Regions from separate parts of the Homo sapiens genome. Here region 2 is linked to region 1. The links come from fine-mapping of genetic effects on gene expression. Tissue or cell type: whole blood. Region 1 holds a variant in brackets; the other region holds the start of a gene. All regions are shown on one strand. Distances are between the middles of the regions.

Region 1 (8,179 bases):
TCTGCCTTTTACCTCCCAAAGGTAAGTTTAGTCATTAGCCAGGATTTGAACTGCAGATCATGAAAATTTGGTAACAGGCCAGCCGTGGTGGCTCATACCTGTAATCCTAGCACTTTGGGAGGCTGAGGCAGGAGGATCACATGAGGTGAGGAGTTCGAGACCAGGCTGGCCAACATGGCAAAACCCCAACTTTACTAAAAATACAAAAATCAGCTAGGCATGGTGGTACACGTATGTAATTTCAGCTACTTGGGAGGCTGAGGCATGAGAATCACTTGAACCCAGGAGGTGGATGTTGCAGTGAGCCGAGATCGCACCACTGCACTCAAGCCTGGGCAACAGAGCCAGACTGTCTCAAAAAAATAAAAATAAGGCTGGGTGCTGTGGCTCAGGCCTATAATGGCAGCAATTTGGGGGGCCAAGGCAAGATAACCTGATGTCAGGAGTTGGAGACCAGCCCGGCCAACATGGTGAAACCCTGTCTCCACTAAAAAAACAAAAATTAGCTGGGCGTGGTGGCACGCACCTGTAGTCCCAGCTACTCGGGAAGCTGAGGAATGAGAATCACTTAAACCCGGGAGGTGGCGGTTGCAGTGAGCTGAGATCGTGCCACTGCACTCCAGTCTGGGTCACACAGCGAGACTCCATCTCAAAAAATAAAAATAATAAACTATCTTAAAAAATAAAATTTGGTAACATAGGCTACCTATGTATTAACATGAAAAAAAGTCACAATTCTTTCTAGCCTGTCCTGAGGGTTCAAATAAATCCCAGCCCTTAACAAGGAAAGATCAGGTCATTTATTGTGTCCATGAAAAAAATAAACAAGTAGTTAACCCAGGACACTTTTCTTCTACCTACCCCCAAGCCCCACCAATCCCCAGGCACTGACAGCCATCCCTACCCAGTCTCATGTTTACCCTTGAGATAAAATTTGGCTATGGCTGTCCTGACATCAACGTTTCCTTTTGGACCATGACTCAGCTTTTTGGATCCCTTAATTTCCTATGCAAAGGAAAGACAGATGAGCTAAGTTAGATCTCCAGTCATCCTACTAACTGGATGGATCTAATGTCAATGCAACAGCTCCAGTCAGTGAATAGAGAGCTCAGATCCTTCACAGTATACCACCATGCCCCACCCTATCCCACCCCCAAGACAGTAGAGGCTTCTCACTGCTACCTCTAGCAATCTCTCATTGGCTTAATTTTTTCCTTCTATGACACAGGCAAAGGAAGGAATGTCAGTGCTCAAAAAGCTTCAGATTTTAGAGTATTTCAGATGAGGGATAATGATTCCAACCTCTATTTGGGAGGCGGGGTGGGGGGCAATGAAGGAAGCACTAACAGGTAAAACCAACCAGAAAATCATTTGATACAAAATTCCCAATAATTATATTTTTAAAATATTTTTCTTTTTTTATTTTTCAAACATCAACTTGAACCAGAAATCCAATAATTACAAATAAAATTTACACTGTGGCTGGGCATGGTGGCTCATGCTTGTAACCCCAGCACTTTGGGAGACTGAGGCGGGCAGACAACTTGAGGTCAAGGGTGTGAGACCACCCTGGCTAACATGGTGAAATCCCACCTCTACTAAAAAAATACAAAAATTAGCCAGGCGCGGTGGAGCGTGCCTATAATCCCAGCTACACAGGAGGCTGAGGCAGGAGAATTGCTTGAACCCGGGAGGTGGAGGTTGCAGCGAGCCGAGATCGCGCCATGAACTTCAGCCTGGGCAACAGAGTGAGATTCTGTCTCAAAAAACAAAAAAAGTTACACTGTGAATTTTCCAAATGCTTCATTTTATAAATCTGCAAGTAAGAAAAATTTCACTGCCAATTATGCAAATTCCATAACGAACCCCAAAGATCTGAAAGATAGTTTCATAACACCAGGAAATTATGAGGTACCATGTCAATTAACATTTTACTCCATTTTATAGTTAACCAAACTATAAATGTGCTTATCTTTATTCTCAGGATCTGTTTTTTTCTTTTTTGAAAAGGAGTCTTGCTCTGTCATCCAGGCTGGAATGCAGTGGTGCGATCTTGGCTCACTGCAACCTCTACCTCCTGGGTTTCAGCGATTCTCCTGCCTCAGCCTCCCGAGTAGCTGGGACTACAGGCGTGAGCCATAATGCCCAGCTAATTTTTCTATTTTTAGTAGAGATGAGGGTTTCATCACGTTGGCCAGGCTGGTCTCGAACTCCTGACCTCAAGTGATCCACTGGCCTCAGCCTTCCAAAGTGCTGGGATTATAGGTGTGAGCCACTCTGCCCAGCTCAGGATCTGGTTTTAATGGCAATTTTTTGTATATACTCCCATGGCACCCAGACTTCTTTAAAACACATACTAGACTTAGAATTTATTCTTTGTCATCTTCCCCAACTAGGCTATTAGCAACATGGGGGTAGGTACTGCTATATCTTTCAGCCTAGAGTTCCTGGCACATAGTAAGTGCTTGGTAACAGAGGTACCAAATAAATCAATCACTGAGTGGTACTGAAATTTTAACTCCTTTAAAAACATTGAGGCTGAGATTCTGGTTAAAAGTCTATTCAGAGAAGCTGCTGGATAGAATGTCACAACAGGAGGCCGGGTGCGGTGGCTCACACCTGTAATCCCAGCACTTTGGGAGGCCAAGGCAGCAGGTGGATCACAAGGTCAGGACTTCAAGACCAGCCTGACCAAGATGGTGAAACCCCACCTCTACTAAAAATACAAAAATTAGCCAGATGTGGTTGCGTGCGCCTGTAGTCCTAGCTACTCAGGAGGCTGAGGCAAGAGAATTGCGTGAACCCGGGAGGTGGAGGTTGCAGTGAGCCAAGATCATGCCACTGCACTCCAGCCTGGGCCACAGAGTGAGACTCCGTCTTAAAAAAAAAAAAAAAAAGAATGTCACAACAGGTACTGGATGGCCTGTTTGGAGGCCTAATTCTAGACCCTATCTCCTATCTCTTACTCCCTTTCCCTACATTGCACTAGGGATTTCTCAGTTCTGCCAAACTTGGGAAGAAGTGTAAGATAGAGGCCTCTCCATCTCCTGAGATGTCCACTTCCCTGTTACTGTGCTCAACCCCCTGGGCATAGAACTGGAGTTCCCAAAGATGTTTCTGATTCAGGAATGTGAATCTGAAAGCACAAAGGGCAAATCAGAAAATGGAACTCATTGGTGTTTAACAAGAAAGAAGAGATATTTAATATTTAATAATATATATAATATATAAGAAATATATAATATTGAATGATAAAATTCCAGAGAGACTACACCAAAACTTAATAGTTACCTTTGGGGAATGAGAACATGAAGAAAGGGTGGTGGTGGGGTATTCCTGTGAATTTTTATCTTTTGTTCTACAGCCTTCTTTACTGGTTAAGTACTTATTTGTTAACCAAGAATGTGAAAACAACAGAATATCACTAACCCCAATCAAAGAGCCTCTCACTTCAAACAACATTTAGCTGGTATATAAGTACACGTGTGTTTACTTTGCTATTAGATCCAGGGCGGAGGTAGTGATTTTAAAAAAACAATTCTAGTAACAACAGGAAAAATCAAATTGAAAAACATATCAAGCACCATGGACTCAAAGGTTAAGTGTAAGTGCACTTGCCAACAATAGGTCTCAACTCAACTGAAAATGACGTGGCTTCCTTATCAATTCATGTTGTCCCCTGAATCCCCTTCTTAAGTAGGAGGGAAAAAACGTATTCCATATAGAGTTTGGTATGTGGGAAAGTTGTGTTTTTTGTTTTTGGGGTTTCTTTAGTTTTTTATTTAAGAGATGGGTTCTTGCTCTGTTGCCCAGGCTGGATAAGCTTTTGTTAATGCAAACGACATCTTATACTATAAGAGATACACAGAGATATACTCACAGTTTGGGGGAAATGTCTTACTAACATTCAGGTACTTAGTCTCAAAAATGAAGCTACTGAAAAAGCTTCATTCTCATGGAGGATGGGAAGAGTTACATACATGAGCAACTCAAGGGTTTTTTTTTTGTTGTTGTTGTTGTTGTTGTTGTTGTTGCTGTTTTGAGACGGAGTCTCGCTCTGTCTCCAGCCTGGAGTGCAGTGGCGTGATCTCGGCTCACTGCAACCTCCACCTCCAGGGTTCAAGCAATTCTCCTGCCTCAGCCTCCCGAGTAGCTGGGACTACAGGCGAGCGCCACCACGCCCAGCTAATTTTTGTATTTTTAGTAGAGAAGGGGTTTCACCATGTTGGCCAGACTGGTCTTGAACTCCTGACCTCAGGTGATCCACCCGCCTTGGCCTCCCAAAGTGTCTTTTTGTCTAATACTGAAAAGTTGCAAGAAACGTTAACTCTCTAAACCAGCGCTGTCCAATACAGTAACCACTAGCCACATGTGGCTAATGCGCACTTGAAATGTGGTCAGCCAGAACTGCGATATGCTATGCGTGTAAAATGCACCCAGGATTTAAAAGACTTAGAAAAGACTCCAAAAGAGAATGCAAATACTTCATTAATAACTTTCATAGTAATTTTAGGTTGAAATTGTTTTGATAAATTAGGTTAAATAAGATATGCTATTAAAATTAATATCGGTTTCACTTTTTTAAAACGTGCCTACTGGAAAATTTTAAATTACAATTTTCAATGCAGCTTGCATTCTATTTATGTTGGACAGCGCAGCTCGGAGCCTTAGTTGCCTCGGCGGTGAAATGGGGCTAACACCCACCTCGAGCGGTTACTGTAAGGATCCAGTGAATTAAAGCTGGTAAACGTTTGGCATATGCCAAGCAAAGGGCAGATGCC[C/A]AGGCAGGCGCTCGCACCAGAAGAGACTGAGAAGTGGTTGAAGCCGCCCTCACCTGGCTTCCAGCTACTGCAAGGACAGCCTTTGGGGGACACGCCTTTCTTCTTCCTCTGGTAGACCAGAAGCTGGACTATCACCCCAGGAACCCGAGGCCGCCCCAGAGTCTGCTGTGCTGCCAGCCAAGGGGTTGGTGAGTGAGGCGGGGGGCGCTCCTTCCCACAAGCTGGTCTCAGTGAGCAGAAACAGGGGTGCAGTGAGGAGGAACTCCAAAGCTGGGGCGGCCTGCTCGGAGGACGGCCGCGCAGGCTAAAAGAGCGGCCCGCGGAGAAGGCAAGGAGGCGGCTCGGCTCCCCGGACGTCAGCCTCGGCGGCCCCACCTACCTGCCCTGCAGATTCCCCGAATGCCGCGGCGGCCGCAGCTCCCGAGGCTGCGACGGCTTCTCCTCGTTCCACACCGCCCACTGGCTCCTGGTCCATCGTCGTCGCCACCACAGGGCTGCTGGCGCTGGTGAGAAAGAGGGTAATGGCCGGTAAGCCCACTTCCATCCTTGGTCTCCCCGCCCAGTCGCTGGCCGAGCCAGGCTGTCGGGAAGTGGGACTCACCCGCCCAGCGCCCGCCTCGCGCCGCGCCTAGCCAAGTCTCTGAGAAGGGGACTCGCCGGCCTGAGGGGCGGGGCCAGCCCGCGCCTCGCCTAGCCCGCCGGGCTCCGCACCCCGAGAGCTGGCCAACTGCAGTCTGGGAGGCGCAACTACCGGCTCGCGCGGGGCGGGGCGGGGCGGGGCGGGTCCTTGCGGGGCGTCGCTTCCGGCCAAGCAAGCATCCAGAGCTCGTGGATCCCCGCCTGGCACCGCCTGTGACGTCATTTCTGGTACGTGTACCTGAAGCCTGGCGTCTCGACCTCGGCGCAGCCCGTCACCAGCGGCGTCTGGGGCAGTCACCCCGCAGGACCTCGGTTTTTGCACTTGTAAAATGAAGACAGCTGTGTCGTTGTACTTCAAAGGCTAGTGATGGGATGTGGTTGCTGAAAAATGTAAAATGTACGGCTCGTGCTGCACTTTCCATTCCAAACGTGGGTGACAGTCCAGCCAAAATACCCTCGAAAGAAGAACCCCAGGCGTGATATTTGCTTACTCTTGTCTGAAATACTTAAGTATAACTGTAGAAAGTGTTAAGTGAAAAGACCTGAAGGAGAGCAAAGGGCAGTAGTAAGCTTCCATCTTGACAAATGTAAGGAATGTTTTATCTGTGTCTTAAAGTCGTGTGCGTATGTTAGAGGGGGCGTCCCAGATTTTTTCCGTCTTTCGCAATGTTCAACGAAAGTAAAAAATCATGCAATTACTGCATGACTTCAACATCAAACAAGTCTGAGGTTCTGCAGGTAAATGGTATATTGTTGTTTTAGCATGAAAGTTTTCACAAATATGTAGGGGGCAAAACCAAAACATACATTATTTTGGCTATGGGAGGCTTCATTTGATACTTTAAATTCCATTTTCATACTAGTCTCAATTCAGAAATGCTCCCTAAAGTTGTATGACCTTGTAAATGTTTTTCATCATAGCAACAGCAGGCCCAAATATTAAATATTCCTTTCTCTTCTGTGCCAAAGTTCTTCTCCTTACCCTCTGCCTAATGTTATTGTACACTTCCTATTCTATGTATAACTGGAACCTAAAAACAAAACCAAAAACTTTAAAAAACAAATAATCATTTGAAAACCATCTACGCCTTAAAAACTAGTTGGAAATCCATATTGCTCTCTATCCTGGTAATAAAATCAAGTTAGGTTGCTGCTGAAGTAAACAAGTTAGTACCTGATCTGACTCTGTATGGTGGCATCAGCAGGGAGTTGAGACAGTCCAAAACAGCAAAACCAAACTCGGCCATAAATTGAAAACAAAAATAAAGAACCAATTGTTAAGACTTCATGAATTGGCATTCATAAACAACACAGTTCTGCATTATATGTATTCAAAATCTCTTCCTTCTTACTGGCAAGCAGGGCAATCAACAATCTTTATTACTAAAACTTTGTGGGATATTTATAAATGCATGATTTTATTTTCCAAAGTGGCAATTAAATATCAAATTACAATTTTCTTTTTCTTTTTTTTCTTTTTTTTTTTTTTTGAGATGGGGTCTCACCCACGCTGGAGTGCAATGGCGCAATCTTGGCGCACTGCAACATCCGCCTCCCGGGTTCAAGCGATTCCCCCACCTCAGCCTGCCAAGTAGCTGGGATTACAGTTGTGCACTACCACGCCCGGCTAATTTTTGTATTGTTAGTAGAGACGGGGTTTCACCATGTTGGCCAGGCTAGTATCGAACTTCCGACCTCAGATGATCCACCCACCTCAGCCTCCCAAAGTGCTGGGATTACAGGCGTGAGCCACCACGCCTGGCCTCAAATTACAATTTTCATTGCCGAAGCAGAATATATTTTCACAGTTTACATGTGTATTTCTTAGTTTACTGAAAATTCAAAGTACAAGTTACATTCTAACGTGAACTGGAAGTATTTCCTAAAAAGTTATTTTTAACACAAATATCCAATTGAAGAGCAGTTTATTACAAATCAACAACTCGGGCTGGGCACGGTGGCTCACGCCTGTAATCCCAGCACTTTGGGAGGCGGAGGCGGGTGGATCACGAGGTCAGGAGATCGAGACCATCCTGGCTAACACGGTGAAACCCCGTCTCTACTATAAAATACAAAAAATTAGCCGGGCGTGGTGGCGGGCGCCTGTAGTCCCAGCTACTCGGGAGGCTGGGGCAGGAGAATGGCGTGAACCCGGGAGGCGGAGCTTGCAGTGAGCCGAGACCGCGCCACTGCACTCCAGCCTGGGCGACAGAGCGAGACTCCGTCTCAAAAAAACAAAAACAAAACAAATCAACAACTCAAAGCAACATAAAAGCATAGAAATTCTAATGGTTTTATTTTGGACATTTATATTTTTGTCATTATTTCCAAACTGTTATAGCTCAACCAAAAGTAGGCACCAAGGCAATGTGCCAAATTTTTCCTTCTTTCACTTTGTAACATAAATTGTATCGTAGCACTATGACAAAAATAAATTCAAGTATTATGATAATTTATCTACTTGAAAACATAATGTGGTCTAAATTTATCATTTAATGATACATATAGAGCTAAAAAGGTAAATTTGGATTGAACCATTTCTGCGTAAGGCTGGGAAAATAAATCTGAATAAAATTTGATAACCAGGAATGTTCATCAAATAAACAAGACATTCTTAGGGTTTTAACATAGCTACATATATATACTTTGATAGAGAATTTTTTAAGTTATCCATCAAACAGGACAATATATTTTCATCAAAAATAATGCACAAGAAAAAAAGATGATAAAAATAAAAATGCATTTTAGGTTCAGTCTAA
Region 2 (8,179 bases), 74 kb before region 1:
CAGTAAGTTTAAGATAATTAAGCATAATTACTGCTTCAAAGCTCCGTAAACATGATATAGGGGAAAAAAAGGCAAGAGAAAAACAGAGGGAAGGAACAAATTTTTAGGAAGCAAATTAATGAAGAAATAATGACTAAGCATGGTGGCTCACACCTGATCGCTTGAGGCCAAGAGTTTGAGTCCAGCCTGGTCAACACAGCAAGACCCCACCTCTTAAAAAAAGAATATTAATTTTAAAAAATAAGTAAAAATTTTCAAAAATTTTAAAAAAGACTAAAGCAATAAACAGGTATGTACCCAGTAACATGAATAAAGCAAAAGCAAACCAAAGGAGAGAGCTTTAGAGAGACAGCAGCCAAATGATAGAAAGGTCCAAAACAAACTGGAAGGGTTAAGATTTTCCATTGTAATGCTTACGTATAAGGCTTGATCAATATCCCCCTGTCCACTCTAATCATCCAAGTTGATGAACTATAGATAGTAGACAGAATAGGCCGGACGCGGTGGTTCACGCCTGTAATCCCAGCACTTTGGGAGGCCGAGGCAGGCGGATCACCTGAGGTAGTTCGAGAGCAGCCTGACCAACATAGAGAAACCCCGTCTCTACTAAAAAGAAAATAGAAAATTAGCAGGGCATGGTGGCGCATGCCTGTAATCCCAGCTACTCGGGAGTGTGAGGCAGGAGAAAACCCGGGAGGCAAAGGTTACAATGAGCCGAGATCATGCCATTGCACTCTAGCCTGGCAACAAGAGCAAAACTCCGTCTCAAAAAAAAAAAAAAGGGAGAGAGTAGACAGAATAAATATAAGCATATTATCTCAGTCGCTAGATTTCAGAGGAACTTCTGAAAATACTAATATGGCCAGAGACAGTTCTAGTCAAATGCTATATTCTTTTCTTGCTATGAACAGTGGCCATAAGTAGTATTAAGTACTCACATCATACTAGATGCCTAAGAAAACAAAATTAATGATCCTTCCAAAAGGAAAAAAATGTAAAAATTAAAACTGCTATATAATTTCAGTTTTATGTGATGGGTAAAGATTAGCACAAATTATGTATGTTGTTACTTTTTTTAAAGAGAGAAAATTTTGTCGTAAAGAGAAAATAAATCTTACTAAGAGATGGAAAAAAGTATAATCAGAAGAGTGATTCTCAGCAACTAACAACAAAAAAGAATGGCTACTTTGAGGTTTAAAGTTATTAAATTAAAAATAATTAGCCAGGTATGGTGGCACATGCCTGTGGTTTTAGCTACTGAGGAGACTGAAGCGAGAGGATCACTTGAGGCCAGGAGTTTGAGGTTACAGTGAGCTATGAACACACCACTGCACTCCAGTCTGGGCAACAGAGCAAGACCCTGTCTCAAAAAAAAAAAAAATTAAAGAATAAAAACATACATATAAAAAAACCAAAATTACCTCTCAAACCATGTTTTTATACTGTGTGCAAATGACTCCCCTGGATACAGCTGATTATTTCTTAGATATGAAAGAATATCTAGTAGTTTATTTGAATAGTTATCATCCTTTATGTCTTTTCCAAAATCAAAGAAAGCTTTTAAAGTTTCCAACATAGGAACAATATCATGACCTAGCAATTCCTGATATAAATTCCAAGCTGTGTTTACATCTTGATGAAGGAGAGCTCCCTGGATACAGTCATTATAGTTCTTTTTTGAAGGAGTTATAACTTTTTTGATGTCCTCTAACAGCAACAATGCTTCTCTCCATCTGTCTGAATGGATCAATCCCCGGATGAGAAGACTGTAACCTCTAGGTTCTAAAGTCTTATATCTGGCTTTCATAATTTCAAAGACATCAATAACTTCAGATGTCTGCATATGAAAGACACAGAGATACAAATACTTGACCAGTAAATCGTAACTTACAATACCATTATTTTTGGCTGCTACCCATGCCAGCAGAGATTTAGCCACATCTATAGAGCTATGACAGCCAGCCATCTGTGAAATGATCCAACTTTCGAAACTGGTCTTTCCGGTGTTTTCTTTTAAATCTTCCTTAAGTTTATCCCACTCCTCTGAATTCAAAGGTTGTGTTGGGAGTTGAATAGTGTTCCTCACAGGTGCCAAGGCATGATCTTCAGTTTGAGAATTCATCTGTGATCTCTCCTTAGCTGCTCCAGCTAAAAAAAAATGAGGAACAGAATAAACTTGCTTATTACTGCCCTCATCTTTCCTGAGATATCTGGCCTTGGCAATCAGATTCGTTGCTTTGGTATTCTGTGGAGACATTGTTTTAAGAGAAAACAACCTCTGCTGGTTCCTGATGCCACAGCGGTCTGCCAGAAACAGCGAGACATAAGAGTGCCCTGGGCCTAGCCCAAGGTATGGGCTCTTCCAAAGCTTCGGAAAGCTTCGAATACCAAACAAATAGAAAGTCATTATGCAGTGAGATCAGCACCAGATAGTGAGAGAGATGTTGAAAAAACCCCTCTTCTATGGCAAAATTAAAGAGATTGGGGGTCGGCGGTGCAGAGTCGAAGTGGAACTTTTTAAAAGGTTTGTGTTTCTTCCTTACAGACAAATCAAGGTTCTGCTTTTGGGGCTACTTAAAAGCAAGAAGGCAGGTGAGTTTTCTCTATTAAACAACAATCCGGGGATGTCCAACGTCGCAAGCCGCAAACCAGGGGACAGAGCAGGAATCCTCTGGTGCCTCTTACATTCCAGTTCATGAACCTGAGGAAAAAGCACAAGACGGAACGCCCAGTTTTACTCACGTGGATCACAGCTGTCCTGAAAAGGAACAGATTCCCACGGGAAGCTTGCTGGAAAGGGGGTGTAAAGCCAAAACCGTATCCAGGGACCCCCAACTCCAGCCTACCACCAACAGCGGCGAAAGCCGAAGTCTAGGGGCCCTCACCCTGCATAGCTCTCTACAGACCGCAAAACTCCTCCGGTGGGGGGACGAGGAGGGAGGAGGTGGCGAGTCAGCTGCGCCAACGACTCAGGAAAGGAAGAGAGGTACAGGAAGGGCGCTGCCTAGACTGCGTACCGAACGCTGACAAATGAAGTTCACTTCATTCAACAACTCAAAGCGGCACTCAGACTTAACGCGGCCATAAACGCGGCGGAAACTACAGTGCCCACGATGCACCGCGCCAGCCCCGACCGACGGACGAGACTGACCCGGACTTAGGCGTTCCGCCTGGCCCGGCGGCGAGGAAAAAAGGCAGTTTTGAAGCATTTAGTGGCAAAAGGGGTAGGAGACGGCTGCTGAAGTGTCTACTACATTCAGGGGACCTGGAAGGCTTCCAGATATCCGCAATGAACAATGAAAAGAAATTGTGAAAGAAGGCGCTTCCCTCAAGCCGGAACTAATGAACTCCTGGGTCACGTGGTGCGCACGCGCCAAAGGCACACGATAAAGGAAAACGCGGGCTTATCGTGGCCTTTAAAATCCGGCTTGGTGAGCTTGGGTCGCCTCTGAAGGAGAACCATTTTCCATCTCTTTCATAGTTTTTTCCCCCAGTCAGCGTGGTAGCGGTATTCTCCGCGGCAGTGACAGTAATTGTTTTTGCCTCTTTAGCCAAGACTTCCGCCCTCGATCAAGATGGTGGTTGGACGGCCTTCCTAACCTTTACGGGGCCTGGCGGTGCTGACGCCTGAGCTGGTAGGGGTGGAGCAGGTAGGAAACAGCAAATGCAGAAGCTGCTGCGCGGAAGTCGGCCATGGACTGGAAAGAAGTTCTTCGTCGGCGCCTAGCGACGCCCAACACCTGTCCAAACAGTGAGTTTTGGGAGGGGCAGCCCGTTGGGATGGCCCGGCCCTAAACTCCTAGAGGTAGGGGGGAGGTGGGGAGGAGGAGCAAGGGGGAGCCGCCTTTTCCGCTTCTGTGAAACCTCCCGACAAAGGAGGCGGAGTGGAATGTGGTTTAAGGATCCCGATAGGTTTGACCCAAACTTTCCTGGGGCAGAATCTAGAGGAACGAAAAACTTAGCTTTAGTCACTGACTTCCATGGTCTTAATCTAAACTTGTGAAGAATAACTTGGAACCCCGGCTCCAACAACGCCTGAACCCCACCAGGACCTATAATTGTCCTCCTGCCTTTTTACTGTCACGCTTTTTGCTTCCCTCGTAATCCATTTTATATTTCATAATCCATTTTTCCTTTTATTTTTCTCCTTCACATTGCTTATTAACTAACCTCGTTAAATCTACCTTTCCTATTCCACACCCGCACTAAGGGCTGTTGAAAGTGGCTGGAGAAAAACAGAACCTTGGTGAGTTGTCTCACTTTTTTTTTTGAGACGGAGTCTCTTGCTCTGTCGCCCAGGCTGGCTGGAGTGCAGTGGCAGCATCTCCGCTCACTGCAACCTCTGCCTCCCGGGTTCAAGCGGTTCTTCTGCCTCAGCCTCTGGAGTAGCTGGAACTATAAGCGCGCGCAACCACGGCCGGTTAATTTTTGTATTTCTAGTAGAGACGGGGTTTCGCCATATTGGCCAGGCTGGTCTCAAACTCCTGACCTTGTGATTCGCCCACCTCGGCCTCCCAAAGTGCTGGAATTACAGACGTGAGTCACCGCGCCCCGCCGAGTTATCTCACTTTTAATACAAGTCCACTAATCTAAAGAAGGTGTTTTGGTCATGTCTACCGTGTTTTCCTGGACGTTCATTCTCCTACATTCAATTTTCATCTCCCAAACTGCCAATCTGTGTTTTCCTAAATACACTTTTTTTTTTCCGATACAGGATCTCCCTGTGTTGCCCAGGCTGGAGTGCAGCGGCGCAGTGAAGTATTGCTGCAACCTCGATTTCCTGGGCTCAAGGGATCTTCCCACCCCAGCCTCTTGAGCAGCTAGAAGTACAGGCACACGCCACCACACCCGGCTAATTTTTTATTTTTAGTGGAGATGAGGTCTTGCTATGTTGCCTGGGCTGGTCTCGAATTCCTGGCCTCAGGCAGTCTTCCTACCTCCACCTCCCAAAGTGTTGCTATTACAGACGTGAGCCGCCGCACCCAGGCAACACTCTTTTACACTATTCTTCTCATCTCCTACACCTGCAGTCTGTCCTACCCGCTTCTTACTTTAAGCTGATGAACTTGTATTTTAATATATATCTCATTAAGAAAGGAGAAGCAGTCGGCCGGGCGCGGTCGCTCAGTCCTGTAATCCCAGCACTTTGGGAGGCCGAGGCGGGCGGATCACGAGGTCAGCAGATCGAGACCATCCTGGCTAACACGGTGAAACCCCGTCTCTACTAAAAATACAAAAAAATTACCCGGTAGTGGTGGCGGGCGCCTATAGTCCCAGCTACTCCAGAGGTTGAGGCAGGAGAATACCTTCAACCCGAGAGGCGGAGCTTGCAGTGAGCCCGAGATTGTGCCACTGCACTCCGGCCTGGGCGACCGAGCGACACTCAGTCTCAAAAAAAAAGGAGAAGCAGTCAGAGGAGAACATCACCTGTCCCCCTTAACATTTCTTTCAGCCCCACAACCCCACAGTTAGTTGCCCATACACTCTGGCTTCACTGTTAAAATGATGAACTGATGCCGGGCGCGGTGGCTCAAGCCTGTAATCCCAGCACTTTGGGAGGCCGAGGCGGGCGGATCACGAGGTCAGGAGACTGAGACCGCAGTGAAACCCCGTCTCTACTAAAAATACAAAAAATTAGACGGGTGCGGTGGCGGGCGCCTGTAGTCCCAGCTACTCAGGAGGCTGAGGCAGGAGAATGGCGTGAACCCGGGAGGCGGAGGTTGTAGTGAGCCGGAGATTGTGCCACTGCACTCCAGCCTGGGCGACAGAGCGAGACTCCGTCTCAAAAAAAAAAAAAAAAAAAGATGAACTGTCCATGCTCCTATTTAAGAGTCCCTCCAGTCCACCACTAGATTGCATTCTTTTCCCTGTATTCACTGACTTCCTTCCAGCCTCCTCCTTTCTTTCCTACATCATCAGATTTTCCTTCTGCTGGATCATTTACACCAGCACAAACGTGCTGTTAATATCACCCATCTTTTTAAAAGGTGGGTGGTCGGGGGTAGTGGTGTTGGGAGGCTCGGTGGCTCATTCATGTAACCCCAGCACTTTGGGAGGCCGAGATGGGAAGATCGCTTGAGGCCAGGAGTTTGAGACCAGCCTGGGCAACATAGTGAAACACCGTTTCTACAAAAATAGAAAGTAAAAAATTAGCCCGGGTGGTTGTGCACCACTGTAGTCCTAGCTACTCGAGAGGCTGAAGCAGGGAGGGTTGTTTCAGTCTAGGAGTTTGGGGCTGCAGTGAGCTATGATCATGACACTATACTGCAGCCTGGGTGACAAGAGCCAGACCCTGTCTTAAAAAAAATTCATTTGGGCTGGGCACTGTGGCTTACACCTGTAATCCCAACACTTCGGGAGGCCGAGGTAGGCAGATCACTTGAGGTCAGGAGTTCAAGACCAGCCTGGCCAACATGGTGAAAGTCCGTCTCTACTAAAAATACAAAAAGTAGCTGGGCGCAGTGGTGCACACCTGTAATCCCAGCTACTTGGGAGGCTGAAGCGGGAGAATCGCTTGAACCCAGGAGGCAGAAGTTGCGGTGAGCTGAGATTACGACACTGCTCTCCAGCCTGGGCGATAGAACGAGACTACATCTCAAAAAAAAAAAAAAAAGTCATTTGATCCCACATCCCTCTCCAGCTTCTGTTGCATTTCTCTGCACTCTTCATAGGAAAACTTCTCAAAGAAGTTACCTGTACTTGGCTGGGCGCAGTGGCTCATGCCTGTAATCCCAGCACTTTGGGAGGCTGAAGTGGGTGGATCACCTGAGGTCAGGAGACAGACCAGCCTGGCCAACGTGGTGAAACGCTCTCTCTACTAAAAATACAAAATTTAGCCGGGCATTGTGGCAAGTGTCTGTAATCCCAGCTACTCAGGAGGCTGAGGCAGGAGAATCACTTCAACCCAGGAGGTGAAGTTTGCAGTGAGCCAAGATCGCGCCACTGCCCTCCAGCCTGGGTGACAGTGAGACTCAGTCTCGGAAAAAAAAAAAAAAAAAAGGAAGGTACCTGTACTTGTACTTTGTGTGCTTTCTTGACCCCTTAACTCTTAAACCCACTGCATTCTTTTAGCAGATATTTATTGCATGCCTGTTTTGTGCCAAGTACCGTTGTAGCTTATAGCAGAACACAAAAAAATCTCTGTCTTTGTAGAACTTACACTTTAGTGTGGAGAGAAATAATAAAATAATAAGTAAATTATATAGGTTGTACAGCACCTGCGTAAGTCTGGTTCCTTCATCAGTGTACTAGATCCTATCCTTTGTAGTAGATTCCATTTTTGCCTGCTGAAGGATGTACTCTTGCAGTTGTCCCTTCTCCTGTATCATCAGTTTTTCTTTAATCATTCCCATCAGCATATAAACATGCTGGTATTTCTCCCATCTTAAACTTTCTTGACTTAATTTCCACCTCTAGCCATTCCTCATTTTTCTGTTCCCCTTATAGCAATATTTGTTAAAACAGTTGTTGGTTAAATCTGTACTCGTCTCGAATTCCTGCTTGTCAAGAATCATCAGTGACTGCTATATTGTTAACTTCAGTGGTCAGTTGTCAGTCTTGACTTTGCTTGAAAAATTTTGCAGTTTTCTACAACAGCACTGAGCCATAGTAAAGAAATTAACTTATAGGTTTGGTCTAAGGTTAAAAATTAACATAATAGGCCAGGCATGGTGGCTCATGCCTGTAATCCCAGCACTTTGGGAGGCCGAGGTGGGCAGATCACCTGAGGTCAGGAGTTCAAGACCAGCCTGACCAACATGGAGAAGCCCCATCTCTACTAAAAATACAAAATTAGCCAGGCGTGGTGGCACATGCCCGTAATCCCAGCCACTCAGGAGGCTGAGGCAGGAGAATCCCTTGAACCTGGGAGGCGGAGGTTGCCGTGACCCGAGATCGTACCATTGCGCCCCAGCCTGGGCAACAAGAGTGAAGCTCCATCTCCAAAAAAAAAAAAATTAACAGATGCAGCAGAAATGCAGTCATAAAAGGAATTCAAGGAAACAATTACAGGCTTGTTGGGAAGGAAATGAGACCAGAAAGAGTAAAATAACTTTTGAGAAAATAGATCACAGAATTCAAGAGCTCAGTGAGGCTGAAGTGGAAATGGTATGGCAGTGAGGTTTTGAATTACCAGAAAGGATGATCTGAGAGTATATTTGAGCTTAAGATTTCAGAAAGG

Evidence for each region. PIP is the estimated chance that this variant, and not a neighbour inherited with it, causes the effect.
Region 2: it holds the start of PPP2R3C, and the variant in region 1 is fine-mapped to the expression of PPP2R3C in whole blood (INTERVAL, PIP 0.98).

What each region holds. Positions count from the first base shown.
Region 1 is chr14:35,043,610-35,051,788 of GRCh38, reverse strand. It overlaps FAM177A1 (family with sequence similarity 177 member A1), which reads right to left and starts at 5,517. Exons shown (of 5, transcript NM_173607.5): 1 at 5,161-5,517. The coding sequence starts at 5,325. RefSeq lists enhancers at 4,648-4,707, 4,808-5,077, 5,798-5,997 and a silencer at 5,328-5,677. The variant C/A (reference allele first, on the strand shown) is at 4,782.
Region 2 is chr14:35,117,474-35,125,652 of GRCh38, reverse strand. PPP2R3C (protein phosphatase 2 regulatory subunit B''gamma) reads left to right here and starts at 3,663. Exons shown (of 13, transcript NM_017917.4): 1 at 3,663-3,751. The coding sequence starts at 3,694. PRORP (protein only RNase P catalytic subunit) reads right to left here and starts at 3,101. Exons shown (of 8, transcript NM_014672.4): 1 at 3,018-3,101; 2 at 1,422-2,701. The coding sequence starts at 2,407. PRORP-PSMA6 (PRORP-PSMA6 readthrough) reads right to left here and starts at 3,814. Exons shown (of 15, transcript NR_182666.1): 1 at 3,601-3,814; 2 at 1,422-2,701. RefSeq lists enhancers at 2,608-3,117, 2,201-3,120, 3,128-3,207, 3,748-3,877, 3,121-4,040 and 1 more.